2 separate regions of the Homo sapiens genome follow, and region 1 is linked to region 2. Evidence: fine-mapped expression QTL. Tissue or cell type: nasal epithelium. Region 2 holds a variant in brackets; the other region holds the start of a gene. All regions are shown on one strand. Distances are from middle to middle. Region 1 holds the start of DRAXIN (dorsal inhibitory axon guidance protein). Region 2 overlaps FBXO2 (F-box protein 2).

The links. PIP is the estimated chance that this variant, and not a neighbour inherited with it, causes the effect. A credible set is the group of variants that fine-mapping cannot tell apart.
Region 1: DRAXIN starts here. The variant in region 2 is the best candidate, but not a certain one, in a credible set for the expression of DRAXIN in nasal epithelium (TOPMed, PIP 0.55).

What each region holds. Positions count from the first base shown.
Region 1 is chr1:11,690,181-11,693,074 of GRCh38, forward strand. It overlaps DRAXIN (dorsal inhibitory axon guidance protein), which reads left to right and starts at 1,530. Exons shown (of 7, transcript NM_198545.4): 1 at 1,530-1,673. It also overlaps a transcript of MAD2L2 not described here. RefSeq lists enhancers at 1-337, 338-845.
Region 2 is chr1:11,647,152-11,649,968 of GRCh38, forward strand. FBXO2 (F-box protein 2) reads right to left here. Exons shown (of 6, transcript NM_012168.6): 3 at 2,794-2,817; 4 at 2,628-2,723; 5 at 1,936-2,074; 6 at 1,236-1,677. The coding sequence ends at 1,543. Among named protein-coding and RNA genes, the nearest start is that of FBXO2, 5.9 kb to the right of the region's middle. RefSeq lists an enhancer at 2,581-2,817. The variant C/G (reference allele first, on the strand shown) is at 1,844.

The DNA of each region.
Region 1 (2,894 bases), 43 kb after region 2:
CACTAGAATCTGAGCTCCATGGGGGCAGGGATTCTTGTCCATGTTGTTTACTACTGTACCTCCGGTGCCGGCACATAGTAGGTGTTCAATAGGTATTTATGGGATGGATGACTCAAACCTTTCAGTGAATAAACAGTTCAGTGTTCTCATCAATCCATCCTGGTGCCCACCAAGCTAATAATATCACGGTAACAATGGCAGCTAATTTTACAGGAGCATTTCCTATGGGCCAGACCTTAGAAACGTTATCTCCTTACACAGGGCACTGCATTCACGCCTAGAACACTGAAATTTAGGTATAATCATGAGCTCAGAGGTCAGGCGACTTGCTCGAGGTCATAGGGGACGGCATCAGAAGAGGAACACAGACATTTAGCCTGACGGCAGAACTGTGTTCTAAAACCTCAAAGTCATAATTTGCCACACGCTGGAGAAAGAAAACAGTCGAAATGGAAGCCACCTGGCGAGCTCAGGGCGCCAGGTGGGAGCGCTGCTTCCCACATATGGGAGTCCGGCCCCATCGCTCTTTGATCTTTGCAGCGTCCGTGGCCCCACCGACCCCGTCGTGAGTTATGGGAGGCACGGGACCCATAACCCAGCATTCTCAGACTCCCAGGGTCGTCAGGACACGGCGCCCCGCGCGGTGATGGATGAGCCGGCCCCAGCGCTGGCTTTGTCCGGGTTGGGCCGGTCTGAGAAGCTTCAGGCCGGCTTTGGACGGGGCGTGGCGAGAGCCGCGCCGCGTGTGAGTGTGTGTGTGTGTGTGTTTGTGTGTGTGTGTATTGGGGCGGTTGTCTTTCTCCCTTCCCTACCGGGAAAGAGGGCACAGGTGCGCCGTCAGCGCCCCAGGTGAGCTGGTAGCACTTTGAAGACCCTTTGTACCCCTACATCCAGGAGCGACCTCTCGGAGAACCCCGCCTGCCCACTCTGCGCACTTTCTGCGGCTACAAAGGCCCCGCCGTTCCCCGTCCCGCCTCCCCCGCCCTGGGCATTTCTTCCGTCCCTTTTGACAGTCTAGGCGGAATAATCCTTTTGTGGCCCCGGGCCCCTGCCCTGACAGACGCGGCCGCAGCTGAGCGCGCAGCCTCGCTCCATTGTTGGGGTCCACCGAGGACCGCCCGCCGCGGCCCTTTGTCGCCCGCCCTGCGCGGGGCCGCTCCAGAGGCGCCACAACTGCCGGAGCCCCTCCCGTCCCACGCGCCCTGGGCCGCGCCGAGGCGGCTCTTACGCACCGGGAGGAGTGGGCCTGCCTCGCCCGGTGCCCGCACGGCTGCTGGGCTGCGCCCGCCTTTGTCTGCCTCCTTTGTCTGCCCCGCGCCCTCGCGGCGGCGGCGCCTAGGCCTCTGGGGAGCTGGCCCAGAACTCAGAGCGCAGCTGGCGAGGGCGCGCTGGCCGGGTGCGCGCCGGGCCCGGCCCCGGGGCTGCCCCTCGGCTGGGGGCAGTCGAGCCCGCCACCCGCCGCCCCTCCTCTGTCCCCTCCCCGCGCTCCCGCCCCCTTCCCTCCTGCCCGCCCACTCCCCCTTCCTTCCAGTCCCGCTCAGCCCGGGCACATCCTCCGGCTGCCCGCGCACCTCTCCACGCCGGCCCCGTTCCGCGGCTCGCCCTCGGCTGCGCTCGGCTCCCGCGGGCGCTCGGCCCCGAGCCCCTCCTCCCCCTACCCGCCGGCCGGACAGGTAAGGCACGGCCTCGGCCCGCCCCTGGCTCCGCCCCTCCCGCCCCACCTGGCTGCGAGCCCGGACAAAGGTGGGCTACCTGGCGCGCCCAGGGGCGGGGTGCGCGGGGTCCCGAGGCTGGAAGTGAGGATGCTGCCTCCTTCCCAGCCCTCGGACCCGTCTATCCGCCAGTCCTTCCGCCGCCTCCTCTCCTCGCCGCGTCTGCCCACGGACCCTGGCTCTGCTCCCGGGCTCCCCATCCGTCCACCTACCGCTGGACGCCCACTTTTCCACGCTCTGACACTCGGCCTCGCGCGCGCCCTCGCCGCCCTCTGGGGTCCCGGCTCGCACCTACTCTCCTCGGCACTAGCCTTCTCTCTCCCTGACCCAGTCTCCCTTTGTCTCTCTGTCTCTGAGTCTCCGGGTGGTCTCTCAGGCAGGGGGCCCCAGTCCGCCACCGTTGGAAGAAGTCTTCGAAGACTCCCTGAGCCCCGGGCAGAGCTGGCGGGCGTGCCCTCCAGCCCCTTTCGAGGCCGCCCAGGAGGCTGGGGTGTGTGGCCGGGGTCGCTGAGTGCGCCCGGAACCAGCACCGCCGGTGGCCCCGCGCCGTCCCATCTGTGCCCAGGAAGGTACTCAGCCTGGCTCCCCCGACGGCGCTGGTCTTTCGCCTGTGGTCTCCCGCTCTGTCCCTCCTGCTCCCCACCGCCGGCTTTTGGCTTTTCTCCGTCCGCTCGTCAAGGGTCTCAGCCGCCTTCGGGGCCGGGGTATGAGATGAGAGAGGGCTGGGGTTTCCCGCCAAGTCTTTCTTGCTTTCCTCAGCTGGGTGCTCCCTGGGCCATCCTCTCCGCCCGGTGGTCTCCCCTGCCCTATATGCTCCCTCCACGCTGCCCACCTCCCAGCCCAGTGACACACTGGTGTCTGGAACCGGTTCAGTACTATGCATCTGGAGTCGGGTACACTGGGGCTCTGGGAGTGATCTCGGACAAAGGAATGCACCTCTCTGAGCCTCAGTGTTCCTGTCACAAAACAGGGATGGTGCTAGTCCCTACCTATAGGGATGTGTGTGGAAATTGTGGGGTGCCGCTTGGTGCTGGTTCACACACCCTGTGGAGGAAGGGAGGGGAGGGGAGGGGAGTCTACAGACCTGGGATGGGGTGGGGACAGGGGGCTCCACAGAAATGGATCTCAAAGTCAAGGCTTAGAGACACTTCAGAGTAACCCCACCACCACAGCCTCTTCCCC
Region 2 (2,817 bases):
GACACTGGCTCCCCCTCCCCTTGGGTCCCACCCTTCATGTGGCCAGGCTGCTGATTCTTCCTGGGAAGGAGTCTCTTATTCCCCACCGTAACTTCAGGGCCCCCACACATGACCTGGCCTGGGGTTGGGGCTCTGGGAATTGTAAATAAATGAACTAGTGAATGAATAAACAATTGCAGGCAGGCCCCAGCTTGAACCCTGCAATCCCACCAGAACAGCAGGTAGCATCAGGGTTCAGAACCGAGGCAAAGCTGGAGACTCTCGGTGATTTTACTGGTCTCCATTTCAGGAGAGGAGGGCAGAGGGTTCCAGGCCCTTCAAATGCCCACCCCTAGGACCAGCAGCTGACAGTCTTTGGAAGGGGCTGGGTCGGCCGGAAGGAGCGTGCCGGAGCACAGAGTCTGGCACAAGACCCTCCCCACCTCCCCTCCCCCAGGCCAAAGCCTGGGCCAACCTCTGGGCCAGGTTTGGAAAAGGGCCAATGAGACCAGATGCTAATGACTCCAGGGGGTGGGCACGAACTAAGAGAAACCCCAAACCAATCCTTTTTGTGCTTCCCCATCCCCACCTCCCATCCCCTACCCCAGGCCCCTCACCTCCATCCCTGGGCCCAAGAGAACTGGTACCCTAGACCCTAGCACAGTCCACACCCACCCCAGTTGCCAATCAGACAAAGGAACTGACACCTTGCCCTAGGGGCCCAGCTTGATGAAGGGCTGTGGAGGTTTGGGGAAGGTGAGGACGCTATGGACTAAGTTAAGGCCTATCTACTCCCAGCCTCTACCCTTCCAAGCAGCTGGGGGAGGGTGGAAGCAGGGCCGCTCAGGGCTCTACCCACATGCTGCTATTGGTCACCCGGGCCCTGAGAACTGGTACACCCCCAACCCCACTCTGCCTTTAGTAAAGGATGGGGGGTCATAGCAAGGCTTAGGATACTCACTGGACCAAGAGAGGCCTGGAGGGCAGCCCCCCCGCCAACATGCCCTATTCTGGCCTCTGGGCAGCTTGGGTGTCGGTCAGGCGCCAGGCTCAGCTCAACCTTCCTTGGTCTCACAATCCCAGCTTTGTCCTCCCTGGCAAGGCCGGGCCCAGCTGACTCCATACTGGCCCAAGGTCCGCTGGAAACCAGAGCAGCTGGAGCCCTACCAAGTATTTTTCCAGGCTATGCCGGGGGCCCTCAGGAGACAGAAAAGGATGGGAAGGGAGCAGTGTTTATCCATTTTTTCATTCATTCCTTCCTTGGACAAATAATATTTATTGAGAGCCCACTTTGTGGCAAGCACTGTGCTAGGTGCAGGGAATCAGCAGTGGGTCCAGTCCAAGCTCACGCCCTCACGGATCTACATTCTAGAAGCCGGCTACCTAAGCAAACCTATGCCAACAAAACTTCTCTCTCCCTGCTCAGGGGCTGGGATCGGAGCAAGGGATGGGAGGAGGATGTGTGGCTTGGGGAAGGTGAGGACGCTATGGACTAAGTTAAGGCCTATCTACCCTCGACCTTTGCCCCTCCAGGCAGCTGGGGGAGAGTGGAGGCAGGGTCGCTCAGGGTTCTACCCACACGCTGCTGTTGGTCACCCGGGCCCCGAACCAGCCCTTCCAGTAGACGGAGTCCTGCCCCCCGTGCTCGAAGCGGACGAAGCGGACGCCCGGCCCGTAGTCGGTGAAGGTGTGGGAGATCTGGGGGTGGAGGTAACAAGAGTCAGCCTCGGAGGTCCTGAGGCCTCTCCTGCCGCCCCACCCCGGTACACCGACCGACCTGCAGCTCCCCCACTCGGTTTCTCCGCGGTATTCAGAACTCTCTCCACCACCCGGTGACTATCTCAGCCCAGCCCAGCCCAGCCCA[C/G]CCCAGCCCAGGAGCGCTGTGGGCGGGGTCTCCTCGAGCCACGCCCCTCATGTCCGTGCCCCACCCCTCCGCCCTGGGTCCCCCAGGCTCACCTCCATCCAGCCCCCGCCGTCACTGTCTTGGGGCACTGCCACCTGCCCGCTGCTGAACTCAGCCAGCACGTTCTCGTGCTCGGACAGTAGCTTAACGGTGAGCTCGTAGAGGCAACCAGCGTCGCTGCGGCCCGAGTACCTGCTCAGAGGGAGGGAGCGAGGTGGGGGGCGGGAGGTGGGGTGGGGGCATGGCCTCAGCCCTGCTGAACACGTCCTGGGGATGGGGATTTCCACAAAAGTCCTCCTGTGCGCCCAACATCCCTGTCAGCCAGCACTGCCAGTGTTCCCAGTTTACAGATAAGGGAAACGAGGCCAGCAAGAGAAAGTGACAGCCCACGAGCGAAACACGAGGACTACATTCCAAGTTGGCCAGACCCCAGCTTGGGGCCAAAGCCAGTCCACAGAGTGGCCTTTGGTTTGGACCGCAGACTGATTTTGAAATATATACATTACATATATACAAACATATATATGTGCATATATTTGCCAACATTTAAAACTCAGGAGGGGAGGTGGGTTTCCAGGTTCTCCTGCAAACACGGAAGTTGTCAACCTTTGCAGACCCGTGGCCCACGTGGCCTCAACCCCTGCAGTGGGGAGGCAGCACCCCCAGGCGGGGGGTTCCCCAGCTGGCTCTCCCCTCTGCCTTACCCCGCTCCTCCCAGCCCCATGCCACCCCAGGACCCTCTCACCAGTCCTTCACCACGATGGCCGGCTGAGTCGTGTCCAGCAGCTCCTCCCAGTAGCCCTCAGCCTGCAGGTCAATGACCTGTGCTTTGCGACACCACCTGGGAGAACTGGAGTTAGGACAGAGCGAACGCTCCCCCCTTCCCACCTCCTCCACCCCCTTCTCCTTACTCAAAGGAGGAGGCGAAGTACTTC